2 separate regions of the Homo sapiens genome follow, and region 2 is linked to region 1. Evidence: fine-mapped expression QTL. A gene starts in region 1. The other region holds a variant in brackets. All regions are shown on one strand. Distances are between the middles of the regions. Region 1 holds the start of IL34 (interleukin 34). Region 2 has its middle 28 kb from the start of IL34.

Region 1 (16,181 bases):
ACAGAAGTAGGCCAGCAACTACCCAAAATATCAGACTCACTAACTAGATAAATAAATTCACATTAAAACAATCAGATATAATTTTTCTTTTTCTTTTTTTTGGTCACCCTGGCTGGAGTGCAGTAGTGGGATCATGGCTCATTGCATCCTAGAACTCCCAGACTCAAGCGATCCTTCTGCCTCAGCCTCCAGAGTAGCTAGGACTACAGTTGCATGCTACTACGCCTGCTAATTTTTGTATTTTTTGTAGAGACCTGGTATCGCCATGTTGGCCAGACTTGCCTCGAACTCCTGAGCTCAAGCAATTCTCCTGCCTCAGCCTCCCAAAGTGCTGGGATTATAGGTGTGAGCCACTGTGCCTGGCCCATTTTATTCAAATGAAAAAGTTTTTGTGTTTGTGGTTTTGGGTTGTTGGGGCTTTTTTTTTTTTTTTTTGAGACAGGGTTTTGCTATGTTGCCCAGGCTTGTCTGAAACTCCTAGTGTCAAGCGGTCCTTCCATCGTGGCCTCCTGAGTAGCTGGGATGAGAGGCATGTGCCACTACACCCAGCTTCCCAGCTTTTTCTTTTTTAGACAGAATCTTTCTCTGTCACCCAGGCTAGAGTACAGTGGCACAATCTCAGCTCACCGTAACCTCCACCTCCCAGGCTCAAGCAATTCTCGTGCCTCAGGCCTCAGCCTCCCAAGTAGCTGGGATTACAAGCAGGGGCTACTACACCCGGCCAATATTTTGTATTTTTAGTAGAGATGGGGTTTCACCATGTTGGCCAGGCTGTTCTCAAACTCCTGACCTCAAGTTGATCTCCCTGCCTCTGCCTCCCAAAGTGCTGGATTTACAGGCACGAGCCACCATGCCCGGTCATACACCCAGCTCATTTCGTTTTAACAATTACTACTTGATGTTGGCCAAGTAGTGAGACAAGTGCTGTCCTGGAAAGCAATTTAGCAATTTCTGTTATTAATCGATTTAGTAGTATCCGCACCCTTCAAACCACTAAGCCTTAAAAATGTCTATACTCTTTCACCCAGTAAATACACTTCTAGGAATAAATTGGAAGAAAAGCAAAAAAGATATAACCAATAAATTATGAACAAAGATGTACAGAGCAGCATTTATTTTATAACAGTGAAAATCTGGAAATGGCCTAGACGTTCCATAATAATGCATGTAGCCAATAAAAATCACATTGTCAAAGATGTGGCTGTGCTATGAGAACAATTAGATATGCTTAGTGAAGCTTAAAAACAGCATGACTCAACACTATCTGTGTTCATAGCATGACTACCAAATCTCTATGGGAGATTTTTTCATGTTTTTCTTTTCAAATAGGGTCTTGCTCTGTCGCCCAGGCAGACAGGTGCAGTGGCACCATCATTGTTCACTGCAATCTCAAACTCCTGGGTTCAAGCAATCCTCCTGCCTCAGCCTCCCAGTAACTGGTACTACAGGTGCCACCACCACACCCAGCTAATTTTTTTTTTAATTTTTTGTAGAGAGGAGGTCTTGCTGTTTTGCCCAGGCTGGTTTTGAACTCCTATGCTCAAGTGATGCTCCCACCTTGGCCTCCAAAAGTGCTGGGATTACAGGCATGAGCCACCACACCTGGCCTTGGCCTTGCAGGACATTTATTTTTATTTTTATTTATTTTTTTTTTGAGACGGAGTCCCGCTCTGTCACCCAGGCTGGAGTGCCGTGGCGCAATCTTGGCTCACTGCAACCTCCGCTTCCTGGGCTCATGCCATTCTCCTGCCTCAGCCTCCCGAGTAGCTGGGATTACAAGGTGTGCGCCACCACATCCAGCTAAATTTTTTTGTATTTTTAGTACAGACGGGGTTTCACCAGGTTGGCCAGGCTGCTCTTGAACTGCTGACCTCGTGATCCACCCACCTCAGCCTCCCAAAGTGCTGGGATTACAGGCATAAGCCACCGCACCCACCCAGGACATTTTTTATGTTCTATAATCCATATGTATTATTGTTACAGACAAAAGCAATAACCATCCTCTTTTTTTTTTTTTTTACAAAAGCAGTCAGGCAGGCTGAGTCACCTCCCTGAGCCACCCCCAGCTATGAGCAGGAATTACTGATTGGATTTTCCCCACTCCCCAGCATCTTGGAAGACTTTGTCCTTGCAGCCCCTCTGGTCTGGGCCACACCACCCATTTGCTACCTCCCCACTGCCTTCTCCAAACCTGCCCTGCTCAGGCCTCCTGCCTCGCCTTTGTCCCTGCAGGACCTCCCACCAGGAGTGCCCTTGCTCAGCTCAGAGCCTCAGGTCTCCTCAAGCCCTGTACCCCATATAGCCCCACATTTTTTGCTAAGTTGCAAGTCTGCAATCTATCTTGCACTTCCTCTCTCCCTCTTCCCCTGTGCCTGATACAGTATTGGGTGAGAAGAACAGATAAACATGAACTGAACCAGTGTTTGGCCCTTTAACATCTGCTTACTTTCTGTCCTAAGTCCTGAACCCCTCAGCTTAGCATCTACTCTTGCAGGTCAAGATCATCCCTGCCTCCTGGGCTCATGCTTTGCCCTGCGCTAGGTACCCTCTCACAACACAGACCTCTTTCAAAGCCTCCCAGAGACTCTTCTCTCCCCCCCATCACCACGCCAGGGTCTCCCCTTTCTGCATCAGCCCCCATCGGTCTCTGTCTCCAGCACCACCTTCCCCATTCACTCATGACCTGGGATTACAGGTGCGCGCCACCACATCCGGCTAATTTTTTTTGTATTTTTAGTAGAGACGGCGTTTCACCAGGTTGGCCAGGCTGGTCTTGAACTCCTGACCTCGTGATCCACTCACCTCGGCTTCCCAAAGTGCTGGGATTACAGGCGTGAGCCTGTGTGTGAATCCATAACGCAGTTAAACACTGCACAGCCCAGCGTGCTGAGAACTTCACATGTGCATTTGGGGATTCGCCTCAAGCAGTAGAAATGGGAGCAGACATTGTCATCCCTTGCAGAGCTCGTTAAGGCACAGGTTGTCCTGCCTGCCCCAGAGTCTCTGCTCAACCAGTCTAGGATGCAGAGAGTCTACCTTTCTAACAAGGTCCCAGGTAAAGCTGTGGCTGGGGGTCTGGAACCACAGACCTAGAGCAACAGTTGCAAGCTGGTGTCCCGAGAGCCACCTCTGGTCCACAAGGATTTCACACAACAATTCAAAATTTCAGCTTTTCTTTAAAAAAATCAGTACCTCTGTCCACACTGGGTCTTTTTTCCTGTGTGGCCATCACCATTGGCCGTCTACTTCACCTCCCAACCCTACAGCACCTGCCCTTCTCTGTGTCCCGTTCTGGGGCCCTGGGGACCCGGCAGCTGTGGCCTCAAGGCAGGGACTGTGCCTTGGAGTGACACTGAGCCTCCCAGCCTGACACGGTGGGCACACAGCTGCCCTGGAAACCCTGTCCACAGATGATCTGCCTCTCCCCCAACTGGGCAGCCTTCCTCTGAGTGCAGCCCAAACATCATTGCTAAGGGCAAGTTTCTTTTTTTGCTGCCTCCACCCACCCAGAGAAACAGGTTAACAAACAGGGACCAGGCAGGGACAGCACAGCCCCAACCTCAAGGCCACTGTCCCCCACATGCTCTGCACACCAGGAACCCCACAGCCAGTGCCACCCCTGACCTTGGTCAGGAGACCCACCCTGCCCTTGTCTTAGCCCAGAGGTAAGAACCCACAACACAGGCTGGGCACGGAGGCTCACACCTGTAATCCCAGCACTTTGGAAGGCCGAGGTGGGCGGATCACCTGAGGTCAGGAGTTCAAGACCAGTCTGGCCAACATGGTGAAACCCCATCGCTACTAAAAATACAAAAATTAGCCAGGCGCAGTGGCAGGTGCCTGTAGTCCCAGCTACTCGGGAGGCTGAGACACAAGAATCATCTGAACCCAAGAGGCAGAGGATGCAGTGAGCTGAGATCGTGCCGCAGCACTCCAGCCTGGGTGACAGAGTGAGACTCCGTCTCAAAAAATAAAAATAAAAATAAAATAATAAAACAACCTGCAAGACAGAGAGGAGGCTTAAGAAAGATCTGTGTGAGTACGGTACTCCCTTCCTGGTTCCCTGGCCCTGGGTTGACCCTATGTGCAGTGACAAGTGAGGCTTGTCACCCCCAGCCCCGGGGACCAAATCTGAACCTGTGCAGTGGGTTAAATAGCATCTCCTCCAAATCCACATTCACCCGAACCCGAGTGTGACCTTGTTTGGAAATGGGGTCTTTGTGAAGTAGGAGGTAGGACCGACTCCAGAGGCAGAGCCCTGACACTGGACCAAACTGAGGACTAGTGAAAACAGGGGTGGACGGGGCAGAAGCAGCATTCCAAAAGACATGCTCAGCAGTGTGCCATGTCAGTTTACCATTGCCATGGCAACGCCTGGGAGTTACCACCGCTTTCCATAGCAATGACCCAATGTCCCAAAAGTTACTACCCCTTCCCTAGAAATGTCTGCATAAACTGCCCCTTAATCTGCATGCAATTAAAGGTGGGTATAAATATGACTGCAAAAGGCCCCGAGCTGCTCCTCAGTACGCTTCCTCTGGCACAGCCCTGCTCTGCAGGAGCTGGCACAGAGCTATAACATCTCTTCAGTAAAGCTGTTTTCTTCTACCACCAGCTTGCCTTGAATTCTCTCCTAGGGAAAGCCAAGAACCCTCGCAGGCTAAGCCCCCTTGGGGGCTCGCCTGTCCTGTGCCACTTACAGGCATTATTAAATGAAGGATGTCAAGATTAGGCCATCCTGGATTTAGGCAGTTCCCTAAATCCAGTGACTAGTGTCCTAGGAAGAAGAGGAGAGGACATAGAGACACACAAAGGGAAAGGCCACGCAAAGACAAAGGGAGATCTGAGTGACTAGGCCACAAGCCAAGGAAGCCAGGAGCCACCAGGAGCTGGAAGAGGCAAGGGAGGCTCCTTCTCGGCACCTTTAGAGGGAACGCAGCCCTGCAGGCACCCTGATCTCACACTTCCGGTCTCCAGAACTGTGAGACGACACATTCCTGTTGCTCTAAGCCACCCGAAGCTTTCTAATTGGTTATGGCAGCCCAACTTCCTCAGCACCCCAGCCCCTGGGCACCAGCCCCCACCTCAATCTGCTGCTCTCCCTCTCCCTCATCCCCCAGCCAGTCTTTGCCTGGTCCTAAGACCCACCCCTCCTGGAGCTTTTTCCCCTCTCCCTTGCTTTTCTTTCTCTCTTTTTCTTTTCTCCTTTTTTTTTTTTTTTTTTTTTTTAAAGACAGGGTCTCACCCTGTTGCCCAGGCTGCAGTGCAGTGATGCGATCCTTGCTACTGCAGCCTCAACCTCCTGGGCTCAAGTGATCCTCCCACCTCAGCCTCCTGAGTAGCTGGGATTACAGATGTATGCCACCACACCTGGCTAATTTTCCTTTTTTTAGAGATGGAGTCTCGCTATGCTGCCCAGCCTGGTTTCAAACTCCTGGCCTCAAGCCGTCCTCCTGCCTTGGCCTCCCACAGTGCTGGGATCACGGGCGTGAGCCACCAGCCCAGCATCCCTTGCCTTTCATTCGCACCTCCACCTCCAGAATGACCCTCATTCCCTCCTGCACAGACGGTGACAGCAGTAACTCCTACAAACACCACCAGACTGATCTTCAAGAGCAGAGGAACTCCCAATCACGATTCCACCCCCGCCGGGCTCTCAAATCCTCCAGGGCTGCCTGCTATGGGGAGGGAGGCACACTTTGCTTGGCTCTCAAGGCCTCAGCCAGCCGGGTCCAAACCAGCTCCCAGCCTGGCCTCACCATCCCACCGCCAAACCTTTGCTCACACTGGCCCCTCTTCCTGGAACATGGGCCTCATGACCCCAGGTCTACCTGTGTGACCACCACCCCACCTTCTAGACCATTTCCAGTAGCCCCTCCCCCATGCTGCACCCCTGCTTCTCATGACCTAGGGGTTTCCAGAACATTGGGTCCAGCTGGGTCCTTCCACCCATCCTTAATGTCCCAACCCTTTGTTGTATATTTCCACAAGGGCCAGGGTGGACCCAACTCTTCTTTCAATCCCTCGCAGGCTCATACCCCAAACCTCCAACAGTTCCTGAGCACTCAACCCTGTGCCAGGCGTTGGAGACAGAGGCACGAGACAGCAAGGTCCTTGTTGTCATGGCAGTGACTCTGCAGTGGGCACGTGGGAGGCACCGGAAAAATGTGTTGAATTTGAGTCAATTGAACTGGATCTTGGAGACTGAGGGGATCTTGGTCTGGCCTCCCAGCCAGCAGGCATAAGAGGCTTCCAGATCCTTTTTTTCCTTTCTGTCCTCATTTCAACTTATTTTTCTTTTTACCAACAGTGTTATCTTTCTGCTTTTTAATTCTGTTCTGTTATGGAGGGAGGGTTGGAGGGGAACAGGCTGCCTTCTCCAGGCATCTGGCTGCTCTTCTGCCGTGGGTCTTGGGTCCCTAGACACTTTCACCAGCCCCTGCCCCCCTCCACCGGCCATACCCAGGACTGGGCCGCTGCTGCCCGCCCGGGGCTCCCCAACACCCACAAGCCTGGAAAGGTGAGATGCTGCCACCTACCCCCAGTGCCTGCCCCGACCTAAGACCACCCTGAGGACCATGCCCACCCAGCCAGAACTGCCCACCCAGCTTGCCCGTCGGAGCCCGAAGTGAGCGGCAGACAGGGCAGACGGCGGCCGTGGGAATCTCAGAGGGTGTCTGCAGTCCGGCTGGGAAGCATCGCAACTTCTCACCAGCAAGAATGCCCTGGTTGCTATGGTTACGGCAGATCCTGGATCTAGGCCAAGGCCTCCCAATGCAGGTCCCTAGGGACCCCCCAGTACTCACAGCGCAGCCAGGTGAAGCCCCGGGGCATGGTGGTGTTCCTCGTCCCCCTGAGAGCTCAGGCGCCGTCCCCAGCAGTGTGTCCACAGAGGCCTAAGCACGGCCTACATGGCCTCGGGGCAGCAGAGGTGGTCACTCAGTCAGGGAAGGGCTGGCCCTGGAGGAGTGGCTGGGCTGCGGGAGTGAGCAGGTGCCCCAAGGGCAGCAGCTGCCCTTATCTGCCCGGCAGCGTGGAGGACAGCCGGGGGGCGGTGGCCGCAAGTCCCATGGCAGCCCAGAAGCAGGTCTGAGCCGGTGGCTTGGGGGTCTTTCGGGGTCTTCCTTTCCAAGGAGCAGGAGGAGAGAGTCCCTGGCAGGCCCCTCGGAATCTGGGGCTGGGTGACGCTTTCTCTGATTTCTCCGACTGCAGCTGCTCAGTGTGAAATCTGGCTCTAGGAAGAGAAAGGAGGAGAGAAACTGATTATGTAAGAGCAGCGCTGCCACTCAGCCATCAGCCACAGCGCACACCGCACCCACGGCCTGCACAGGACCACCCGGCCCTGGCAGCTGGACACGGCTCACGTGAGAAATGACTTCAGGATGTCCGAACGGCCCTGGCCCATGAGTGAGTTATGATGACACCAGCTGGCAGCCTGGGGCCTGAACAAAAGCAGGACCAAGGAATGAACAGGTGGTTTGAGTTCACACATCGAGAGCCATGGTAGAGTCCATGAATGACTCAGGCTAAAGGACAGGTTAAAAAAGCAGACGAGCTCCCACTCCGAAAACAAGCCGGACGCAATGGCTCATGCTTGTAATCCCAGCACTTTGGGAGGCCAAGGTGGGAGGATTGCGTGAGCCCAGGAGTTCGAGACCAGCCTGGTCAGCATAGTAAGACCTCAGTTCTATTAATAAAAAAAAAATTAAGAAAAAAAAAATTTTTTTGAGACGGAGTCTCAGACTCTGTCATCCAGGCTGTAGTGCAGTGGCGTGATTTTGGCTCACTGCAGCCTCCACCTCCAGGGTTCAAGCAATTCTCCTGCTTCAGCCTCCCAAGTAGCTGGGATTACAGATGTGCACTACCATGCCTGGCTAATTTTTGTATTTTTAGTAGAGATGGGGTTTCACCATGTTGGCCAGGCTAGTCTCAAACTCCTGGACTCAAGTGATCTGCTGTCTTGGCCTCCCAAAGTGCTGGGATTACAGGCGTGAGCCACCGCACCCGGCCAGGACTAAGGTCTTTACATTCACTGAATCTCTCACAACAATCTCATGGAAGTGCAAAATCTCAGTTTATCAATGAGGAAACTGAGGCCCAGAAAGGTTAAGACACTTGTCCAAGGTCATACGGCTTGTAAGAAGTGTGACAGGAATTCAAACCCTGTGGGCTGGTGGCTGCTCCCAAAATTCGACAACCACACAGGGCTCAGCGTGTGTGCGTGGTCCTCCCATCTGCCCCTCTGGACTCTGCAAGGTCTGGACCATTGTGTCTGCTCTGCAGATCAGGCTGGAATTCCGTCTCTGATTTAGTTCTCTTCCATCCCCTCGCCTCCTCCCTGTCTCCCCTCTGGTGGGGGAAAATGGCTACAGAGTGACACCATCGGGGGAGAGCAGGTATGACTTGGGCATCTTCTTCATTGTGTGATCCATGGTGTCACCAAAGAATGCTGGCCCTTACCCTAAGAGGTGCCCAGCAGGCAGGCAGGGCCTTATAGAGAGAACACGGGTTGTTCAAGTTAATCCCTTATGCAGTCACCCTGAATCTCAGCCCCAGTCGCTGCCTGCTGCTGCTCCTCTTTTCCTTGTCCTTCCTCCTTTTCCTCCTTCCTCTTCCTCCTTCTCTTCCTCCTCCTCCTTCCTCGTCTTCCTCCTTCCTCCCTCTTCTTCCTCCTCTTTCCCCCTCCTCCTTCCTACTCTTCCCTCTTCCTTTCTCCTTCCTTCTCTTCCTCCTTCCTCGTCCTCCTTCCTTTTTCCTTCTCCTCCTTCCTCCTCTTCCTCTTCTTCCTCCTTCCTCCTACTCCCTTTCTCTTCCTCCTTCCTCCTCCTCTTCCTCCTTCCTCCTCTTCCTCCTTCCTCCTCCTTCTCCTCCCTCCTCTTCCTCCTTCCTCTTCCACCTCCTTCCTCTTCCTACTTCCTCCTCTTCCTCCTCTTCCCTCCTTCCTCTTCCTCCTTCCTCCTCCCTTCCTCCTTTTCATTCCTCCTCCCTCCTCCTTTTCCTCCCTCCTCCCTCCTCCTTTTCCTCCCTCCTCCCTCCTCCTCTTCCTCTTCCCCCTCCCCCTCCTCCTCCCCCTCCTCCTCCTCCTCACCCTGGCAATTCCCCTGCTGTTACAGCATCACTACAAACACTAACGTATCTAGAACATTTAGTTGTCATTAGTTTGGGGATTTTTTTCAGGTTTATTGAGGGCTAATTTACATATACTACATTTTACCCTTTTCAGTATACATTTCTAAAAGTTTTTAGCACATTTATAGAGCTGTGTAATTACTATAATAATCAAGATACAAAACATTTCCATCTACCCAAAAAATTCATTCCTTTATAGTGGAAGTTGTCTAAACAAACTGAAACAAGGTAGAATAGTATAACAGACCCCCATATAGCAGTTACTCAGATTCAAAAATTGTCAATCTGGCTGGGTGCAGTGTCTCACACCTGTAATCCCAGCACTTTGGGAGGCCGAGGCGGGTGAATCAGTTGAGGCAGAATAAACTCCAAGGAGAAGGGGAAAAAACAACTTCAAATACCAATAGAAAAACAAAAAAGTTATTTCCACAGAGTTGTCCATAAAAGGTCAGGACTTTGAGACCAGCCTGGCCAACATGGTGAAACCCTGTCTCTACTAAAAATACAAAAATTAGCCAGGTGTGGTGGTGCATGCCTGTAATCCCAGCTACTCAGGAGGCTGAGGCAGCAGAATCACTGGAACCCAGGAGGCGGAGGTTGCAGTGAGCCAAGATTGCTCCACTGCCCTCCAGTCGGGGCAACAGAGCGAGATTCTGTCTCAAAACAAAAGAAAAAAATGATCACTCTTCTGTCATTCCAGCTTCACTCATCCCCCAATTTTTTTTTCCAGGAATATTTTAAAGCAAATCTCAAACATGCCATTTCACCAGCATGTAGGGATTTTTAAAATATATAATCACAATATTGTCATCACACAACCCTCAAATTAATAACTCTTTAATATGATTTCATATAGAATCCACGTTCAATTTTCCCTGGTTATTTTTTAAATCTCTGATGTGCATCTTAAGTCTTTTTTCTTTTTAAAAATCAATATATAATTTGCATGCCATAAAATTTACCATTTTAAAGTGTACAGGCTGCGTGTGATGGCTCACACTTGTAATCCCAGCACCTTGGGAGGCCAAGGCCGGGGGATCGCTTCAGCCCAGGGCTTTGAGACCAGCCCGGGCAACATAGTGAGAACCCGTATCTACCAACAAAAATTTTTTTAATTAGGTGGGTGTAGTGGCACGGGCCTGTGGTCCCAGCTACTTGGGAGGCTGAGATGGGAGGATCACTTGAGCCAGGGAGGTCAAGGCTGCAGTGAACCATGATCACGCCACTGCACTCCAGCATGGGTGACAAAGCAAGACCCTGTCTCAAAATAAATAAATAAAGTGTGCAACAGCCAGGTGCAGTGGCTCACTCCTGTCATCCCTGCAGTTTGGGAGGCCAAGGCAGGTGGATCACCTGAGGTCAGGGATTCGAGACCAGCCTGGCCAATATGGCAAAACCCTATCTCTACTAAACATACAAAAGATTAGCCAGGCACGGTGGTGCGCACCTGTAATCCCAGCTACTCAGGAGGCTGAGGCAGGAGAATCACTTGAACCCGGGAGGCAGAGGTTGCAGTGAGCCGAGGTAGTCCCACTGCACTCCAGCCTGGGTGACAGAGTGAGATCCGTCTCAAAAATAAATAAAAATAAATAAAAATAAATAATAAAGTGTACAACTTTGTGGGTTTTTAGTGTACTAAGTTGTGCAACAGTCACCATTATTTAATTACAGAACATTTTCATCACCCCCAAAATAAACTCTGAACTCATTAGCAGTCACCCCCTATTCCCTCTTCCTCCCAGCCCCTGGCAGCCACTAATATTCTTTCTGTCTCTATGGATTTGCCTATTCTGGACATTTCATATAAATGGGATTGATTATGCAATACGGGACCTTTCATGTCTGGCTTCTTTCACTTAGCATGTTTTCAGGGTTCATTCATTTTGTAGCATGTTATGAACTGAATGTTTGTGTCTCTCCAAAATACATGTGTTGAAGTTGTAACCCCTAATGTGGTGGTTCCTGGAGATGAGGCCTTGGGAGATAATTAGGTTTGGATGAGGTCACAAGGATGGGGTCCTTATGGTGGGATAATGCCTTTATAAGAAAAGAAATCAGGCCGGGCTCAGTGGCTCACGCCTGTAATCCCAGCACTTTGGGAGCCCAAGGCGGGAGGATCACAAGGTAAGGAGTTCAAGACAAGCCTGACCAACATGGTGAAACACCGTCTCCACTAAAAATACAAAAATTAGGCGGGCGCAGTGGCAGGTGCCTGTAATCCCAGCTACTCAGGAGGCTGAGGCAGGAGAATCGCTTGAACTCAGAGGGCAAAGTTTGCAGTGAGCCGAGATCATGCCACTGCACTCCAGCCTGGGTAACAGAGTGAGACTCCGTCTCAAAAAAAAAAAAAAAAAAAAAGACATCAGAGTACGCTCACTCTCTCTGTCTCTGTCTTTGTCTCTCTCTCTCTCTGTCTCTTCCCATACTCACACAAAGAACTGGTCATGTGAGTACATAGTGAGAAGGTGGCCATCTGCAACCCAAGGGAAGAGCCCTCACCGGAAATCAATCATGCTGGTGCCCTGATCTCAAAGTTCCAGCCCAGAGAATGGTGAGAAAACAGATTTCTGTTGTTTAAGCCACCCGGTCTATGGTATTTTTTTATGGAAGGCCAGGTAAACTAAGACACAGCATGTATCCGTACTTTACTCTTTTTATTGTCAAATAATGCTCCCTTGCATGAATATCCCACATTTTCTTTGTCCATTTCAGATTGTATTGTTTTCTGGCTTCCTCCAAAATAACTAATGAGGATTTTTAGTGTCATTTTGAAATTATTAATTTTGGCCAGGCGCAGTGGCTCATGCCTATAATTCCAACACTTTGGGAGGTTGCGGGGGGGTGGATTGCTTGAGCCCAGGAGTTCAAGACCAGCCTGGGCAACACAGCAAAACCCTGTCTCTACAAAAAATACAAAAATTAGCCGGACAAGGAGGCATGCACCTGTACTCCCAGCTGCTAGGGAGGCTAAGGTGGGAAGATCACTTGAATCTGGGGAGGTGGAGGCAGCAACAGGCCATGATCATGCCACTGCACTCCAGCCTTGGCAACAGAGTGAGATTCCATCTCAAAAAGTAAAAAAAAAAAGAAAGAAAGGCAGGAAGGAAGGAAGGAAGGGAGGGAGGGAGGAAGGGAGGGAGGGAGAGAGGGAGGGAAAGAATTTTTTTAATTTATGTATTTCAATCCATTGAAGTTACTTTAAAGTCAGGCTTATTGAGGTGTAATTGATGGACAGTGAAGCTCACCTTCTTTAAGTATACAGTGCCCTTGGTTGGTGAACTTTTGGGCTGTTTCCACCTTTTGGCCATTATGAATAATATGGCTATGAAAATCCATGTGCAAGTTTTTGTGTAGGCATAACATTTTCTTGTTGTTGTTTTGAGATGAAGTCTCGCTCTGTTGCCCAAGCTGGAGTGCAGTGGTGTGATCTCAGCTCACTGCAACCTCTGCCTCCCAGGTCCAAGTGATTCCCCTGCTTAGCCTCCCAAGCAGCTATGATTACAGGCGTGCACCACCACTTCCGGCTGATTTTTTTGTATGTTTAGTAGAGACAGGATTTCACCATGTTGGCCAGGCTGGTCTCAAATTTCTGACCTCAAGTGATCTGCCTGCCTCGGCCTCCCAACGTGCTGGGATTACAGGTGTGAGCCACCACGCCCAGGCAACACTTTCAATTCTCTTGAGTATATACCTAGGAGTATATACCTATATACCCTGTATGTACATTCAGCCTTTTCTGGAAAAAGCAAAACTCCAGGGACAGAAATTATATCGGTGACATCCCAAAATGGGGAGTGGGGAAGGGGATTGACTGAGAAGGGGCGCAGGGGAATTTTGGGAGGTGAAGGAAATGCTTTAAACCCTGAATGAAGCGTTGGTATATTATTTGTTGAAATTTATCCAACCGTATGCTTAAAGAGGATGAGCTTTACCATACATCAACTATACTGCAAAAGGCCTGACTTAAAAATAACTTTAATTGATTGAAATATATATATTTAAAAACTAACTTTTTTTTTTTTTTTTATTGAGACGGAGTCTTGCTCTGTCGCCCTGGCTGGAGTGCAGTGGCAAGATCTCGGCTCACTACAACCTCCACCTCCCGGGTTCAAGAGATTCTCCTGCCTCAGCGTCCCAAGTAGCTGGGATTACAGGCATGCACCACCACACCCGGCTAACTTTTGTATTTTTAGTAGAGACAGGGTTTCATCTTGTTGGCCAGGCTGCTCTTGATCTCCTGGCCTCATGTGATCCACCCACCTCGGCCTCCCAAAGTGCTGTGATTACAGTTGACACAAGGTAATATAGCAAGAGGCTGTCCCTACAAAAATAAAAAATACAAAATTAGCCGGGCATGGTGGTGTGCACCTGTAGTCCCAGGTACTCAGAAGGCTAAGGCAGGATGATTGCTTGAGCCCAGGAGGCCAAGGCTGCAGTGAGCCACGATGGCACCACTGCACTCCAGCCTGGGTGATAGAGTGAGACCCTGTCTCAAAGCAAAACAAAAGAAAACAAAACAAAAAGTCTAGCACATACAATTATGTACAGTACCTAATACTTGATCATGATAGTAAACTATTAAATTTATTCTTTCTAAAGTTTTTCTTTTAAAAAGTGTCCCTGGTCTACAGCCTAGAGTTTCCTGATTGCAGATCCATGGTCCACTTCAACATGTTCCTCTGTCTTTTTTTTTCGGAGACAGGGTCTCCCTTTGTCACCCAGGCTGGAGTGCAGAGGCGTAATCACAGGTCACTGAAGCCTCTACCTCTTGGGCTCAAGTGATCCTCTCACCTTAGCCTCCTGAGTAGCTCGGACTACAGGCATGCACCACCACACCTGGCTAATTTTTATTTTTAGTTTTTGTAGAGACAGGGTCTCACTATGTTGCTCAAGCTGCTCTCAAACTCCTGGGCTCAAGCAATCCTCGACCCCGGCCTCCCTAAGTGCTGGGATTAGAGGCGTGAGTCACCACGCCTGGACTCCTCTGTCTTGTCTTTCTGCATGTTTGCAGTGGGAACAGGGTCAAGCTCAAGCCCTTCGTCACGATACAAGCGGTGCTGTGTTCTTTCAACAGAAGGCACGTGACAACTGCACTCCACTCTTTGCTGATGTTGGCAGGCAATGCCACTTAATGCCTAGATCCATTAATTCACTGAGGGCTGCTAATTGTGATATTCTAATTCATCATCTCGCTTTCTGATCAAGCGTTTCCCCATGAGGCAAGCAGAGGCAGTAGCAGATCAACAGCTTTGCCAAGATGTCTGATATAAACGCAATATTGTGCTTTCCTCCTATTTCTGGCCTCTGCCTGAAATCAGACAGTCTCCAGGCCCGTGTAATTTGTTTTCAAATGCCTGCTTCTCAAACAAGATTGGCTGGGTTCTGGACGTGCATTTTCCCATTATGACCCAAAGACATCTGAATGAATTTGATCAAATACACTCCTGGATCCGGGCTGTACATTTCTGGTGGGTGCCACCTATCTGTGATCAATGTCACCACATCTGGAAAGCTCAGTGCCACACCATATCCCAAGGGCATCTCCCAAGCTGGAGTGTTCTCAGGTGAAATAAAACATGAAAATCCATGCCAGCTTTACAAGCCACAGAATCACCAAAACAGGGCAACGCCTTAGTCAGCATTTCCTAACTAAGAGCCAGGTGTCTACCACAACACCCCTGAACCAGATCTACCTACATGGAGATAGATTTCCCTGCATTCACTCACTTTTTTTACTTAAACCAGTTTATTTGTTTAAAAACAAACAAACTGGGCTGGTGCGGTGGCACACACCTGTAATTCCAGCATTTTCGGAGGCTGAGGCAAGAGGATCGCTTGAGCCCAGGAGTATGAGACCAGCCTGGGCAACATAGAGAGACCTAATCTCTACAAATAATTTTTTTTTAATTAGCTAGATGTGGTGGCATACCCACAGTCCCAGGTACTCAAGAGGCTTGACCCCGGGAGGTCCAAGCTGCAGTGAGCCGTGGCTGACACAGAAAGACCAGCCCGGGTGACAGAGAAAGGCCTTGTCTCAAAAAAATAATAAATAAGTATAAAATATCATGGGAAAGCATATGCAGATATTGGGAGGATAAGAAGCCACCAACCAGGGGACCAGAGAGAGAGTGGGGGGGTCAGAAGGCAGGAAAGTTTCCCCAGGGAAGGGGATGACTCCAGTTCTTTTCTTTTTTTCTTTTTTCTTTATTTTTTTTTTTGATAGGATCTTCACTCTGTTGCCTCAAACTCCTGGGCTCAAGATCCTTCTGCCTCGGTCTCCCAAGTTGCTGGGACTATAGGTGTGCACCACCATGCCTAGCTAAGTTTTACAGTTCTTTTGTAGAGACAAGGTCTTGCTAAGTTGCCCAGGCTGGTCTTGAACTCCCAGGCTCAAGTGGTCCTCCTACCTTGGCCTCCCAAAGTGCTGGGGTTACAGGCATGAGCCATCGCGCCCAGTCTGATTCCAGTTTTTAAACCTCCCAGAGAGCTCCCTCTGGTTGGAAGCAGGGCTAATTCAAAAGCAGCCCATGGCTTCTGGCAGAGTGCATGGGTCCACTTTTTACACTGATTTGTAGTATGGAGAAAGACCCAGAAATATACTCTAAAATAATTTTAAAGAAGACAACAAAGCTGAATGCCTGGGATATCCATTGCACTGCTGTTTACACTTGAAGCAAAAAACAAAACAAAACAAAACAAAAAAACCTGGAAACCACCTAAATGTCAAACCACAGAAAAGCAGTTAGCAAAATCTGAGAACTGGTATATACTGAGTGCTGACCATGTGCCGATTGCTTTAAATAGAGCATAGCAAAATAATTATACCTTTTTATCCTTGCAGCAACTATGAGAATCAAACCTCCCAGTCTCTGAAAAAAGTCAGATTCAAAGAAGACAGAGGAAAGAAGTCTCTTCAATCAACACTGGGGAAACTATCTGACATCCTTATATATGTATATAAAAAATTAAACTCAACCCTTATCTCATACCACATATAGAAATTAACTTGGCCAGGCGCGGTGGCTCACACCTGTGATCCCAGCATTTTGGGA
Region 2 (16,181 bases), 27 kb after region 1:
AAACTAATGGAAAAGAGTAGCAAGTTCTGAAATAGACTCAAATACATACAGAGAAAAGAGCTCATGATAAATGGCTTATGATAAAATAGCTTCTCAATTTAGCTGAAAAAAGTCATCTGGAAGAAAAAATAAAATTAGACCTACTCCTCAAAGCACACATCAGGATAAATTCCAAAAGGATCAAAATTTGAATATAAAATAATAGAAGAAAACATAGGAGACATCATGTTTTTGGCCGGGTGTGGTGGCTCACACCTGGAATCCCAGCACTTTGGGAGGCTGAGGTGGGCAGATCACCTGAGGTCAGGAGTTCCAGACCAGCCTGATCAACATGGTGAAACCCCATCTCCACTAAAAATACAAAATTAGCCGGGCGTGGTGGCGCATGCCTGTAATCCCAGCTACTCGGGAGGCTGAGGCAGGACAATCACTTGAACCTGGGAGGCAGAGGTTGCAGTGAGCCAGGATTGCACCATTCCATTCCAGCCTGGGCAACAAAAGCAAAACTCTGATTCAAAAAAACAAAAACAAAAACAAACAAACCCACACACATCGTGTTTTCTTAAAGTGGGAAGGTTTTGGTACCTATGATTAAACATTCAGAAACCATAAAAGACTGATAAATTTGACTCCATAGAAATAAAAACTTGTATATACTAAAACAAAAAATTAATAAAATAAAAGAGACACACTAAACTGAATGCAATTTATATCAAAGGCACAAAAGACTGATCTCACTAATATGTAAACAGCTCATAGAAATAAAAAAGAAAAAGCCAACAATGTAATTTTAAAAATAAGCAAAACAGGCTGACTCTCTTTTTGGACTCAGCCCACCTGCACCCAGGTGAAATAAACAGCCATGTTGGTCACACAAAGCCTGTGTGGTGGTCTCTTCTCATGGACGCGCATGAAATTCGGTGCCGTGACTCGGATCGGGGGACCTCCCTTGGGAGATCAATCCCCTGTCCTCCTGCTCTTTGCTCTGTGAGAAAGATCCACCTACCACCTCAGGTCCTTAGACAGACAAGCCCAAGAAACATCTCACCAATTTCAAATCCGGTAAGTGGCCACTTTTTACTCTCTTTTCCAATCTCCCTCACTATCCCTCAACCTCTTTCTCCTTTCAATCTTGGCGTCACACTTCAATCTCTCCCTTCTCTTAATTTCAATTCCTTTCATTTTCTGGGAGAGACAAAGCAGACACGTTTTATCGGTGGACCCAAAACTCCAGCGCCTGTCACGGACTGGGAAGGCAGCCTTCCCTTGGTGTTTAATCATTGCAGGGACACCTCTCTGATTATTCACCCACGTTTCAAAGGTGTCAGACCACGCAGGGATGCCTGCCTTGGTCCTTCACCCTTAGCAGCAAGTCCCGCTTTTCTGGGGGAGGGGCAAGTTCCCCAACTCCTTCTCTCCCTCTCTACCCCTTCTCTGCTTTTCTGGGGAAGGGGCAAGTACCCCTCAACCCCTTCTCCTTCGCCCTTAGCGGCAAGTCCCGCTTTTCTAGGGGGCAAGAACCCCCAATCCCTTATTTCCGCACCCCAACCTCTTATTTCTGTGCCCCAATCCCTTATTTCCATGCCCCGACCCCCCTTCCCACTTTTCTGGAGGGTAAGAACCCCCGAACCCCTTCCCTCCATATCTCTATGCTCTCTTTTCTCTGGGTTTGCCTCCTTCACTATGGGCAACCTTCCACCATCCATTCCTCCTTCTCCCTTAGCCTGACTTCTCACGAACTTAAAACCTCTTCAACTCACACCTGACCTAAAACCTAAACGCCTTATTTTCTTCTGCAATGCTGCTTGACCCCAATACAAACTCAACAGTAGTTCCAAATAGCCAAAAAATGGCACTTTGAATTTTTCCATCCTGCAAAATCTAAATAATTCTTGCTGTAAAATAGACAAATGGTCTGAGGTGCCTGATGTCCAGGCATTCTTTTACACATCAGTCCCTTCCTAGTCTCTGTGCCCAATGCAACTCGTACCAAATCTTCCTTCTTTCCCTCCCGCCTGTCCCCTCAGTCCCAACCCCAAGCGTCACTGAGTCTTTCTAATCTTCCTTTTCTACAGACCCATCTGACCTCTCCCCTCCTCTCCAGGCCAAGCTAGGTCCCAATTCTTCCTCAGCCTCCCCTCCTCCACCCTATAATCCTTTTATCACCTCCCCTCCTCACACCCTGTCTGGCTTATAGTTTCGTTCAGTGACTAGCCCTTCCCCACCTGTCCAGCAATTTATTCTTAAAAAGGTGGCTGAAGCTAAAGGCATAGTCAAGGTGAATGCTCCTTTTTCTTTATCCCAAATCAGATAGCGTTTAGGCTCTTTTTCATCAAATATAAAAATCCAGCCCAGTTCATGACTTGTTTGGCTGCAACCTTGAGACGCTTTACAGCCCTAGACCCTAAAAGGTCAAAAGGCCATCTTATTCTCAAAATACATTTTATTACCCAATGTGCTCCCGACATTAAATAAAATTCCAAAAATTGGAATCTGGCCCTCAAACCCCACAACAGGATTTAATTAACCTCACCTTCAAGGTGTACAGTAACAGAAAAAAAGTTGCAATTCCTTGCCTCCACTGTGAGACAAACCCCAGCCACATCTCCAGCACACAAGAACTTCCAAATGCCTGAACCACAGCAGCCAGGTATTCCTCCAGAACCTCCTTCCCCAGGAGCTTGCTACACGTGCCGGAAATCTGGCCACTGGGCCAAGGAATGCCGGCAGCCCGGGATTCCTCCTAAGCCGCGTCCCATCTGTGTGGGACCCCACTGAAAATCGGACTGTTCAACTCACCTGGCAGCCACTCCCAGAGCCCCTGGAACTCTGGCCCAAGGCTCTCTGACTGACTCCTTCTCGGCTTAGCGGCTGAAGACTGACGCTGCCTGATCACCTCGAAAGCCCCGTAGACCATCACAGACGCCGAGCTTCGAGTAACTCTCACAGTGGAAGGTAAGTCCGTCGCCTTAATCAATACGGAGGCTACCCACTCCACATTACCTTCTTTTCAAGGGCCTGTTTCCCTTGCCTCCATAACTGTTGTGAGTATTGACGGCCAGGCTTCTAAACCTCTTAGAACTCCCCAACTCTGGTGCCAACTTAGATGATACTCTTTTAAGCACTCCTTTTAGTTATCCCCACCTGCCCAGTTCCCTTATTAGGCCGAGACACTTTAACTAAATTATCTGCTTCCCTGACTATTCCTGGACTACAGCTACATCTCATTGCCACCCTTCTTCCCAATCCAAAGCCTCCTTTGCATCCTCCTCTTGTATTCCCCCACCTTAACCCACAAGTATAAGATACCTCTACTCCCTCCTTGGCGACTGATCATGCACCCCTTACCATCTCATTAAAACCTTATCACCCTTACCCTGTTCAATGCCAATATCCCATCCCACAGCATGCTTTGAAAGGATTAAAGCCTGTTATCACTCGCCTGCTACAGCATGGCCTTTTAAAGCCTATAAACTCTCCTTACAATTCCCCCATTTTGCCTGTCCTAAAACCAGACAAGCCTTACAAGTTAGTTCAGGATCTGTGCCTTATCAACCAAATTGTTTTGCCTATCCACCCTATGGTGTCAAACCCATATACTCTCCTATCCTCCATACCTCCCTCCACAATCCATTATTATGTTCTGGATCTCAAGCATGCTTTCTTTACTATTCCTTTGCTCCCATCATCCCAGCCTCTCTTCGCTTTCACTTGGACTGACCCTGACACCCATTAGGCTCAGCAAATTACCTGGGCTGTACTGCTGCAAGGCGTCACAGACAGCCCCCATTACTTCAATCAAGCCCAAATTTCATCCTCATCTGTTACCTATCTCAGCATAATTCTTCATAAAAACACAGGTGCTCCCCCTGCTGCTCGTGTCCGATTAATCCCCCAAACCTCAATCCCTTACAAAACAACTCCTTTTCTTCCTAGGTATGGTTAGTGTGGTCAGAATTCTTATACAAGAGCCAGGACCGCACCCTGTAGCCTTTCTGTCCAAACAATTTGACCTTAATGTTTTAGCCTAGCCCTCATGTCTGCATACAGCGGGTGCCGCTGCATTAATACTTTTAGAGGCCCTAAAAATCGCAAACTATGCTCAACTCACTCTCTACATTTCTCATAACTTCCAAAATCTATTTTCTTCCTCATACCTGAAGCATATACTTTCTGCTCCCCGGCTCCTTCAGCTGTACTCACTCTTTAAGTCCCACAATTACCATTGTTCCTGGCCCGGACTTCAATCTGGCCCCCCACATTATTCCTGATACCACACCTGACCCCCATGACTGTATCTCTCTGATCCACCTGACATTAACCCCATTTCCCCAAATTTCCTTCTTTCCTGTTCCTCACCCTGATCACGCTTGATTTATTGATGGCAGTTCCACCAGGCCTAATCGCCACACACCAGCAAAGGCAGGCTATGCTATAGTACAAGCCACTAGCCCGCCTCTCAGAACCTCTCATTTCCTTTCCATCGTGGAAATCTATCCTCAAGGAAATAACTTCTCGGTGTTCCATCTGCTGTTCTACTACTCCTCAGGGATTATTCAGGCCTCCTCCCTTCCCTACACATCAAGCTCAGGGATTTGCCCCCGCCCAGGACTGGCAAATTAGCTTTATTCAACATGCCCTGAGTCAGATAACTAAAATAACTTTTAGTCTAAATAGACACTTTCACTGAATAAGCAAAGACCTTTCCTACAGGGTCTGAGAAGGCCACCACAGTCATTTTTTCCCTTTTGTCAGACATAATTCCTCAGTTTAGCCTTCCCCCCTCTATACAGTCTGATAACAGACCAGCCTTTATTAGTCAAATCAGCCAAGCAGTTTTTCAGGCTCTTAGTATTCAGTGAAACCTGTCAGGCCTCTGAGCCCAAGCCAAGCCATCACATCCCCTGTGACTTGCACGTATATACGCCCAGATGGCCTGAAGTAACTGAAGAATCACAAAAGAAGTGAATATGCCCTGCCCCCCCTTAACTGATGACATTCCACCACAAAAGAAGTGTAAATGGCCGGTCCTTGCCTTAACTGATGACATTACCTTGTGAAAGTCCTTCTCCTGGCTCATCCTGGCTCAAAAACACCCCCACTGAGCACCTTGCGACCCCCACTCCTGCCCGCCAGAGAACAAACCCTCTTTGACTGTAATTTTCCTTTACCTACCCAAATCCTATAAAACGGCCCCACCCTTATCTCCCTTCACTGACTCTCTTTTCGGACTCAGCCTGCCTGCACCCAGGTGAAATAAACAGCCATGTTGCTCACACAAAGCCTGTTTGATGGTCTCTTCACACGGACGCGCATGAAATTTGGTGCCATGACTCGGATCGGGGGACCTCCCTTGGGAGATCAATCCCCTGTCCTCCTGTTCTTTGCTCCATGAGAAAGATCCACCTACGACCTCAGGTCCTCAGACCGACCAGCCCAAGGAATATCACCAATTTTAAATCAGGTAAGCGGCCCCTTCTTACTCTTCTCCAACCTCTCTCACTGTCCCTCAACCACTTTCTTCTTTCCACTCTTCAATCTCTCCCTTCTCTTAATTTCAATTCCTTTCATTTTCTGGGAGAGACGAAGGAGACATGTTTTATCCGTGGACCCAAAACTCCGGTGCCAGTCACGGACTGGGAAGGCAGCCTTCCCTTGGTGTTTAATCATTGCAGGGACGCCTCTCTGATTATACAGGCACGCTTCAAGGGTGTCAGACCATGCAGGGACGCCTGCCTTGGTCCTTCAACCTTAGCGGCAAGTCCTGCTTTCCTGGGGCAGGGGCAAGTACCCCTCAACCCCTTCTCCTTCACCCTTAGCGACAAGTCCCGCTTTCCTAGGGGGCAAGAACCCCCTAATTGCTTATTTCCACACCCAAACTCTTATCTCTGTGTCTCAATCCCTTATTTCCGTGCCCCAACCCCTTCTCTGCTTTTCTGGAGGGCAAGAACCCTCCACCCCTTCTCCGTGTCTCTACTCTTTTCTCTGGGCTTGCCTCCTTCACTATACGTAAGATTCCACATTCCATTCCTCCTTCTTCTCCCTTAGCCTGTGTTCTCAAAAACTTAAAACCTCTTCAACTCACACCTGACCTAAAACCTAAGTGCCTTTTCTTCTGCAATGCCCCTTGATCCCAATACAAACTCGACAGTAGTTCCAAATAGCCAGAAAATAGCACTTTGAATTTTTCCATCCTGCAAATCTAAATAATTCTTGTTGTAAAATACGCAGAAGGTCTGAGGTGCCTGACGTCCAGGCATTCTTTTACACATCAGTCCCTTCCTAGTCTCTGTGCCCAATGCAACTCGTACCAAATCTTCCTTCTTTCCCTCCCGCCTGTCCCCTCAGTCCCAACCCCAAGTGTCGCTGAGTCTTTCTAATCTTCCTTTTCTACAGACCCATCTGACCTCTCCCCTCCTCGCCAGGCTGAGCTAGGTCCCAATTCTTCCTCAGCCTCCGCTCCTCCACCCTATCTTTTTATCACCTCCCCTCCTCACACCTGGTGGGGCTTACAGTTTCGTTGCGTGACTAGCCCTCCCCCACCTGCCCAGCAATTCACTCTTAAAAAGGTGGCTGGAGCCAAAGGCATAGTCAAGGTGAATGCTCCTTTTTCTTTATCCCAAATCAGATAGCGTTTAGGCTCTTTTTCATCAAGTATAAAAATCCAGCCCAGTTCATGTCTTGTTTGGCTGCAA[C/A]CTTGAGACGCTTTACAGCCCTAGACCCTAAAAGGTCAAAAGGCCATCTTATTCTCAAAATACATTTTATTACCCAATGTGCTCCCGACATTAAATAAAACTCCAAAAATTAAATTCCAGCCCTGAAACCCCACAACAGGATTTAATTAACCTCGCCTTCAAGGTGTACAATAATAGAAAAAAGTTGCAATTCCTTGCCTCCACTGTGAGACAAACCCCAGCCACATCTCCAGCACACAAGAACTTCCAAACTCCTGAACCGCAGCGGCCAGGCGTTCCTCCAGAACCTCCTCCCACAGGAGCTTGCTACATGTGCTGGAAATCTGGCCACTGGGCCAAGGAATGCCGGCAGCCCGGGATTCCTCCTAAGCCGCGTCCCATCTGTGTGGGACCCCACTGAAAATCGGACTGTTCAACTCACCTGGCAGCCACTCCCAGAGCCCCTGGAACTCTGGCCCAAGGCTCTCTGACTGACTCCTTCCCAGATCTTCTCGGCTTAGCGGCTGAAGACTGACACTGCCCGATCGCCTCGAAAGCCCTGTAGACCATCACAGACGCTGAGCTTCGAGTAACTCTCACAGTGGAAGGTAAGCCCTTTCCCTTCTTAATCAATACGGAGGCTACCCACTCCACATTACCTTCTTTTCAAGGGCCTGTTTCCCTTGCCTCCATAACTGTTGTGGGTATTGACGGCCAGGCTTCTAAACCTCTTAAAACTCCCCAACTCTGGTGCCAACTTAGGCAATACTCTTTTAAGCACTCCTTTTTAGTTATCCCCACCTGCCCAGTTCCCTTATTAGGCCGAGATACTCTAACTAAATTATCTGCTTCCCTGACTATTCCTGGACTACAGCTATATCTCATTGCCACCCTTCTTCCCAATCCAAAGCCTCCTTTGCGTCTCCTCTTGTATTCCCCCACCTTAACCCACAAGATACCTCTACTCCCTCCTTGGCGACCGATCATGCACCCCTTACCATCTCATTAAAACCTAATCACCCTTACCCCACTCAACGCCAATATCCCATCCCGCAGCACGCTTTAAAAAGATTAAAGCCTGTTATCACTCGTCTGCTACAGCATGGCCTTTTAAAGCCTATAAACTCCTTACAATTCCCCCATTTTACCTGTCCTAAAACCAGACAAGCCTTACAAGTTAGTTCAGGATCTATGCCTTATCAACCAAATTGTTTTGCCTATCCACCCCGTGGTGCCAAACCCATATACTCTCCTATCCTCAATACCTGCCTCTATAACCCATTATTCTGTTCTACATCTCAAACATGCTTTCTTTACTATTCCTTTGCACCGTTAATCCCAGCCTCTCTTCACTTTCACTTGGACTGACCCTGACCCCCATCAAGCTCAGCAAATTACCTAGGCTGTACTGCTGCAAAGCTTCACAGACAGCCCCCATTACTTCAATCAAGCCCAAATTTCTTCCTCATCTGTTACCTATCTCTGCATAATTCTCATAAAAACACACGTGATCTCCCTGTCCGACTGATCTCTCAAACCCCAGCACCTTCTACAAAACAATTCCTTTCCTCCCTAGGCATGGTTAGCGTGGTCAGAATTCTTACACAAGAGCCAGGACCACACCCTGTAACCTTTCTGTCCAAACAACTTGACCTTACTGTTTTAGCCTAGCCCTCATGTCTGCGTGCAGCGGCTGCCGCTGCATTAATACTTTTAGAGGCCCTCAAAATCACAAACTATGCTCAACTCACTCTCTACATTTCTCATAACTTCCAAAATCTATTTTCTTCCTCATACCTGACGCATATAATTTCTGCTTCCCGGCTCCTTCAGCTATACTCACTCTTTGTTGAGTCTCCCACAATTACCGTTGTTCCTGGCCCAGACTTCAATCCGGCCTCCCACATTATTCCTGATACCACACCTGACCCCCATGACTGTATCTCTCAGATCCACCTGACATTAACCCCATTTCCCCAAATTTCCTTCTTTCCTGTTCCTCACCCTGATCACGCTTGATTTATTGATGGAGGTTCCACCAGGCCTAATCACCACACACCAGCAAAGGCAGGCTATGCTATAGTACAAGCCACTAGCCCGCCTCCTAGAACCTCTCATTTCCTTTCCATTGTGGAAATCTATCCTCAAGGAAATAACTTCTCAGTGTTCCATCTGCTATTCTACTACTCCTCAGGGATTATTCAGGCCCCCTCCCTTCTCTACACATCAAGCTGGAGGATTTGCCCCACCCAGGACTGGCAAATTAGCTTTACTCAACATGCCCTGAGTCAGATAACTAAAATACCTCTTAGTCTAGGTAGATACTTTCACTGGATAGGTAGAGGCCTTTCCTACAGGGTCTGAGAAGGCCACCGCAGTCATTTCTTCCCTTCTGTCAGACATAATTCCTCAGTTTAGCCTTCCCACCTCTATACAGTCTGATAACAGACGAGCCTTTATTAGTCAAATCAGCCAAGCAGTTTTTCAGGCTCTTAGTATTCAGTGAAACCTTTATATCCCTTACGGTCCTCCGTCTTCAAGAAAAGTAGAATGGACTAAAGGTCTTTTAAAAACACACCTCACCAAGCTCAGCCACCAACTTAAAAAGGACTGGACAATACTTTTACCACTTTCCCTTCTCAGAATTCAGGCCTGTCTTCGGAATGCTACAGGGGGTACAGCCCATTTAAGCTCCTGTATAGACGCTCCTTTTTATTAGGCCCCAGTCTCATTCCAGACACCAGACCAACTTAGACTGTGCCCCAAAAAAACTTGTCATCCCTACTATCTTCTGTCTAGTCATACTCCTATTCTCCGTTCTCAACTACTCATACATGCCCTGCTCTTGTTTACACTGCCGGTTTACACAGTTTCTCCAAGCCATCACAGCTGATATCTCCTCGTGCTATCCCCAAACTGCCACTCTTAACTCTTGAAGTAAATAAATAATCTTTGCTGGCAGGACTATACTGAATCTCCTTAGGCACTCTCTAATCAGATGTCCTAGGTCTTCCCAATTCTTAGACCTTTTATACCGGTTTTTCTCCTTCTCTTATTCCATTTAGTTTTTCAATTCATACAAAATCATATCCAGGCCATCACCAATAATTCTACACAACAAATGTTTCTTCTAACAACCCCACAATATCACCCCTTACCACAAAATCTTCCTTCAGCTTAATCTCTCCCACTCTAGGTTCCCACGCCACCCCTAATCCTGCTTGAAGCAACCCTGAGAAACATCGCCCACTCTCTCTCCATACCACCCCCCAAAAATTTTCGCCGCCCCAGGACTTCAACACTATTTTGATTTTTCTTATTAATATAAGGCGGCAGGAATGTCAGGCCTCTGAGCCCAAGCCAAGCCATCGCATCCCCTGTGACTTGCACGTATACATCCAGATGGCCTGAAGTAACTGAAGATCCACAAAAGAAGTAAAAATAGCCTTAACTGATGACATTCCACCATTGTGATTTGTTCCTGCCCCACCTAACTGATCAATGTACTTTGTAATCTCCCCCACCCTTAAGCAGGTTGTTTGTAATTCTCCCCACCCTTGAGAATGTACTGTGTGAGATCCACCCCTGCCCGCAAAACATTGCTCTTAACTTCACCGCCTATCCCAAAACCTATAAGAACTAATGATAATCCAGCACGCTTTGCTGACTCTCTTTTCGGACTCAGCCCGCCTGCACCCAGGTGAAATAAACAGACATGTTGCTCACAAAAAAATAAATAAATAAAATAAGCAAAACAATATGAGTAAGACGGTCATAGAAAAATACATAGGCCTTAAACACATTATAAATTAAAATTTTTTCATAACAAATTTAAATTAAGACTACATTGAGTCACTGTTTTTCACCTATCAGATTGGTAAAAATCCAATGATATAAATCCAATTTAATGTGTTGGCAATGATGCGGGCAAACTAATTTTTCATCCAAAGCTGATGGAAGTGCAAATTGGTATTAACCTTATGGAGTGGAAATTGGCAATATCTCTCAAATCACAAATGCAGATACTTAGCAATGCCGTTTCTGGGAATTTATCCTGCATATACAGTATGCACCTGCAACAGGCCACGTGTATGAGATTTTTCATCTCATCAGCGTCTGTGATAGCAGATGGTATAACCTGCATGTTCACCACACAGTAGTATAGCATGATAGATTCAGTAAAACAAGCAAGACACTGAATGGTGTGTTTTCTATGTTGGAAGCTGTGTTCAGCAGAGGTGGCAAAGCTTTTATCTATAAATATCTGTGGAAGGAGTTTGAGGGGGGACGGATTTTTTTATTGAGACAGGATCTCAATCTGTCACCCACGCTGGAGTGCAGTGGTGCCATCTCAGCTTGCCACAACCTCCACTGCCTGGGCTCAAGAGATCCTCCCACCTCAGTCTTCCGAGTAGCTGAGACCACGGGTGTGCACCACCACACTCAGCTAATTTTTTGTATTTTTGGTAGAGATGGGATTTCACTGTGTTGCCCAGGCTGGTTTCAAACTCCTAAGCTCAAGTGATTTGCCCCACCTCAGACTCCCAAAGTGCTGAGATTACAGGCACGTGCCACTGCGCCTGGCACTTTCATCTACCTATATCTATATCTATATATTTGTATATGCTTGCATTTGCATAAAGTGAACATATTAGAATAATTCACACTAAAGCGTGAAAGATTGGCAACTCAGACACCTTTCAGAGACAGTGTATCTTTATTTTATTTATTTATTTATTTATTTATTTTGAGACGGAGTCTTGCTCTGTTGCCAGGCTGGAGTGCAGTGGCGCAATCTCGGCTTACTGCAACCTCCACCTCCCAGGTTCAAGCAATTCTCCTGCCTCAACCTCCTGAGTAGCTGGGACTACAGGTGAGCACCACCACGCCCAGCTAATTTTTGTACTTTTAGTAGAGACGGGGTTTCACCATGTTAGCCAGAATGGTTTCGATCTCTTGACCTCTTGATCCACCCACCTCGGCCTCCCAAAGTGCTGGGATTACAGGCGTGAGCCACCACACCTGGCCAGTGTATCTTTAAAAGAAGATGTTTGTTAACCCAAATAAGTCTAGAATTCGATGGACTTTTTGTCAGGGTAGTAAAATAAGTTGCAAAAATGCATACACCGTAAGTCCAGAGATTTGGGGGGTAACAGGGGAGCCATAGATCAGGAGTTTCTGTTTTCCTGAGGATCAGCTCTAATTAGATTAGACCCAATAAAATATAAACAGTTACCCGGTGAGGCCGGTTATGGGACAGGAGCAGGAAGAAAACTCTTTGCTATAGTTCTATTTTACATGATGTTGAAACCGTATGAGTTTATTCTCTAATCAAAATACTAAGCAGTAAAACAGAGGAGTTGCAGTTCATCAGCTCCTGAGCCTTGGGCAAGACCTACAAGATCTACCCCAGCTCCTGTTCCAACAGAGCCTCTGTCATTTATAATCAAGGAACAAATATTTACAAGAAGTTTTATCACCTGTAACAGCTCACTGACACTTGCCAGAAATGCTTTATGTGAATATTGCTATTGCAAGACACTGTGAGACACAAAGAGTGTAGGCAATTCACATAACTTCCCTTAAAACCCAGTTATCTCTTAGGCAGAGCAAAGATAAGGACAAACAACATCATGAAATTGCTGTGAAAGGCAAGTGTGTGCACATTTCTGAAAGCAGCACAAAAACAAAACAGGTTCCGTGTTCAGCAGCTGCACCACAGCTAAACCTCGGCTCCCATCACTGTTGAATCTGAGCTTCCATGCTTCTCAAACCTCAGCGGGCTTAAGAACCACCTGGAGAGGCTGTTAAAAAACACAGGCTCCAGGCCCCTCCCTCAGACATACAATTCAGTAGGTCAGGGGCCCATGAACTTGCATTTCCAGCATGCTTTGTCTCTCGGATGACACTGATGGGGTGGTGCAAGGACCACATTTGAGGAGTCTGCTCCAAAGAAGGGTTCCTCAAACTGTGCCATACAGACACATTACCTGGAATCTTGTTAAAATATAGACTCACTCAGAAAGTCTGGGGTAGGGCCTGGGATACTGCACTTCTTTTTTTTTTTTTTTGAGACAGGGTTTTGCTCCATTGCCCAGGCTGGAGTGCAGGGGCATGATCACAGCTCACAACAGCCTCAGACTCCTGGGTTCAAGCAGTCCTCCCACCTCAGCCTCCTGAGTAGCTGGGGCTACAGGCGTGCACCACCACGCCTGGATAATTTTTTTTTTTAAGAGACAAAGCCTTGTTGTATTGCCCAGGCTGGTCTCAAACTCCTGGCCTCAAGCAATCCTCCTGCCTCAGCCTCCCAGAGCACTGGGATTACAGGGGTGAGCCACCGTGCCTGGCTGGACTCTGCATTTCTTTCTTTTTTTTTTTCCTGAGACAGAGTCTCACTCTGTCACCCAGGCTGGAGTACAGTGGCGCAACCTCAGCTCACTGCAACCTCCACCTCCCAGGATCAAGCAATCCTCCTGCCTCAGCTTCCCAAGTAGCTGGGACTACAGGTGCACGCCACCATGCCTGGCTAATTTTTGTATTTTTAGTAGAGATAGGGTTTCACTGTGCTGGCCAGGCTGGTTTTGAGCTCCTGACCTCTGGTGATCCACCCACCGCAGCCTCCCAAAGTGTTGGGATTACAGGTGTGAGCCACCACTCCTGGCTGGACTCTGCATTTCTGACAAGCTCCCAGGTGCTGCAGATACCACTGGTCTGCAGACCACACTTTGAGTACCAAGGTTCCGGAATAGCCAACTCCAGTTGTTTCACAGATGAGGAAACTGCGCCTTGGAAAAGGTAAGTGACTTGCCAAGGGCACTTGTACAGTAAGGGTGGAGACCAGGTGAGGCCCCATCCAGTGTGGCCGCCATGCCTCAGGAAACCGCCCCGCTCCAACCCCATGTCCCCAGTCTACGCTACAAGCCTGCCTGAGCCAAGAAGGGATGCCAGCCCTTCAGAACATGGCATGGAAATTTACTAAATCATGCACAGTCCTTCACTCTCCGGAGAAATAAACCACTTACCAGGGAGATTAGTTCAAACCACCAGCCTCTGCAAAAATACACTTCTCACAAAATTATTTTTTCAGTTGCGTCACCTTCACTTCCAGTGACACCCCTTCGACCGGCCCTGCTGTGGGAACCTGAAGAAGACGACATGCATTTCTCAACAGATGTGGTCTGAGGCCGGGCACAGTGGCTCAGGCCTGTAATCCCAGCACTTTGGGAGGCCAAGGCAGGCAGATCATTTGAGGTCAGGAGTTCGAGACCAGCCTGGCCAACACAGTGAAGCCCCGCCTCTACTAAACATATAAAAATTAGCTGGGCGTGGTGATCCCAGCTACTTGGGAGGCTGAGGCAGGAGAATCGCTTTAACCGGGGAGGCAGAGGTTGCAGTGAGTTGAGATTGTACCACTGGACTCCACCCTGGGCAATAGAGTGAGACTCTGTCTCAAAACAAACAAAAAACATGTGTTCTAATTGGGAGAAGCAGAAATGGGGGTGGGGAAGCTGATCTTGGGGAAGCTGAGGAATCCCTCCTGAGCCCCAAAGGCTCCAGATTTACACTGTGTGCGTTTTTCCAACTCACTTTATACCTGTCAAAAAGTCCCTTCAATTAGAGATTGATGTGGGTTAACAAGCACTTTCTTTTCAGGATGCATTGCTTCTGGGAGGGTTCTGAGCTGACAATCTTTCACACTTTAGTGTGAATCATTCTAATACAGAGGTAAAGGGAGCAGAATTCAGGAAACTAAAGTCTCTGGAGTAATTACGGCAGAGTGGGCCTTACCTGAGATCCAGAGCTTCATCTGGGAGCACAGCCTTGGATGAACCACAGCTTGGGCCTTGGCCTCTGCACCGTATTCCAGCTTGGGCCTTGGCCTCTGCACCATACTCACCATTCACCAGCAGATCCCCCTAGCCCCCAGCCCCCAGCCCCCAGTGCTTTCAGGCTGTGAGTAGTTTGTGGGCCTGGCTCTGCCAATAACTTGCTATGTGACTTGAGGAAATCACACAGCTTTAGAGACTCTTAAAGCTGGAAGGAAAAGCCCCCAGGGGTCAGCTGGTTCCATGATCCCAGAACCCCGATTTCTAGACTACAGAACACACAGCCCCTATCGGCCTGTTGGAGGCTGGCTCTCCTGGAAGCAGAGCCTGAGACAGGCTTTGGGCTTCACATGATTAATGAAGGGAGGGAACCTCAAGACAGAAGGCTATCTTTTATTTTTACACAGGGTCTCACTGTATTGCCCAGGCTGGAGTGCAGAGGTGCAATCATGGCTCACTGCATCCTTGACCTCCTGGGCTCAGGCAATCCTCCAATCTCAAGCAATCCTCCTGCTCCTCCCGAAGAGCTGGGACCACAGGTGTTTGTCACCACATCCAGCTATTTATTTATTTATTTATTTATTTAAGACAGAGTCTTGCTCTGTCACCCAGGCTGCAGTGCAGTGGTGTGATCTCGGCTCACTGCAACCTCTGCCTCTTGGGTTCCAGCGATTCTCCTGTCTCAGCCTCCGGAGTAGCTGGGATTACAGGTGCCTGCCACCATGCCCAGCTAATTTTTGTATTTTTAGTAGAAACGGGGTTTCACCATGTTGGTCAGGCTGGTAACTTTTTTAAATTTTGTGTAGATATGGGGTCTTACCATGTTGCCCCAGGCTAGTCTCAAACCCCTGAGCTCAAGCGATCCACCTGCCTCAGCCTCCCAAAGAGCTGGGATTACAGGTGTGAGCCACTGCACCCAGCCCGAAGGCTGTTTTTAAATAGCACCACAGTGTTGTTCTATTTGAGGCAAAGAGGTCAGGCTTTTGCACCCCTAATTCAGTCAGTGGCCCCCCTGCAGGTGTAGAATGGTATAAACTCCCAGGTATCTCCAGCAAGGTGGCGGGGAGAAGGACACAAATCTGCCGTACCTGGCAGCCCCTCCCCCTTCACAGCAACTAGGAAGTGGATACAAGAGCGAGTTCAGGCAATCTGGGGGCACCAACCCTTCCTTCCAGTTCCAAGAGCCTCTCACATGTGTTTCAAAATACAAAGCCCCTGAGCACAGGAGTTCGAGACCAGCCTGGGCAACATGGAGAAACCCATCTCTACTAAAAACAGAAAAATTAGACAGGCGTGGTGGTGCGCACCTGTAGTCTCGGCTACTCAGGAGGCTGAGGCGGGAGGACTGCCTGAACCAGGGACATGGAGGTTGCAGTGAGCTGAGATTGTGCCAGGCCACTGTGCTCCGGCCTGGGCCACAGAGCAAGACCCTGTCTCAAACAACAACAAAAAGAAGAAAGAAAGAAGAAGCCCCCAAAATCACAAAGGATGGAAGGGGGGGAAAGAACGCAAGCAGTTTTTTCATTTCCAGAAGAATCTTGGAATCTGCCCTCAGAATCAACCCTAACTGCTCTCCGTGGCTTCCCGGCAGGCTTGAGGGGGCCCCTCCTTCCTCCTCACCCTAGCTTCACCCACTGTCCCGCACCGACGGCTACTCCCTGAGGACTTTGCCTTATCTCTT

Evidence for each region. PIP is the estimated chance that this variant, and not a neighbour inherited with it, causes the effect.
Region 2: its variant is fine-mapped to the expression of IL34 in lung (TOPMed, PIP 0.90).

The regions. Positions count from the first base shown.
Region 1 is chr16:70,637,601-70,653,781 of GRCh38, reverse strand. IL34 (interleukin 34) reads right to left here and starts at 7,223. Exons shown (of 6, transcript NM_001393494.1): 1 at 6,807-7,223. The coding sequence starts at 6,834. RefSeq lists an enhancer at 3,491-3,991.
Region 2 is chr16:70,610,748-70,626,928 of GRCh38, reverse strand. It overlaps a transcript of IL34 not described here. Among named protein-coding and RNA genes, the nearest start is that of IL34, 28 kb to the left of the region's middle. RefSeq lists enhancers at 4,354-4,901, 4,902-5,449. The variant C/A (reference allele first, on the strand shown) is at 6,696.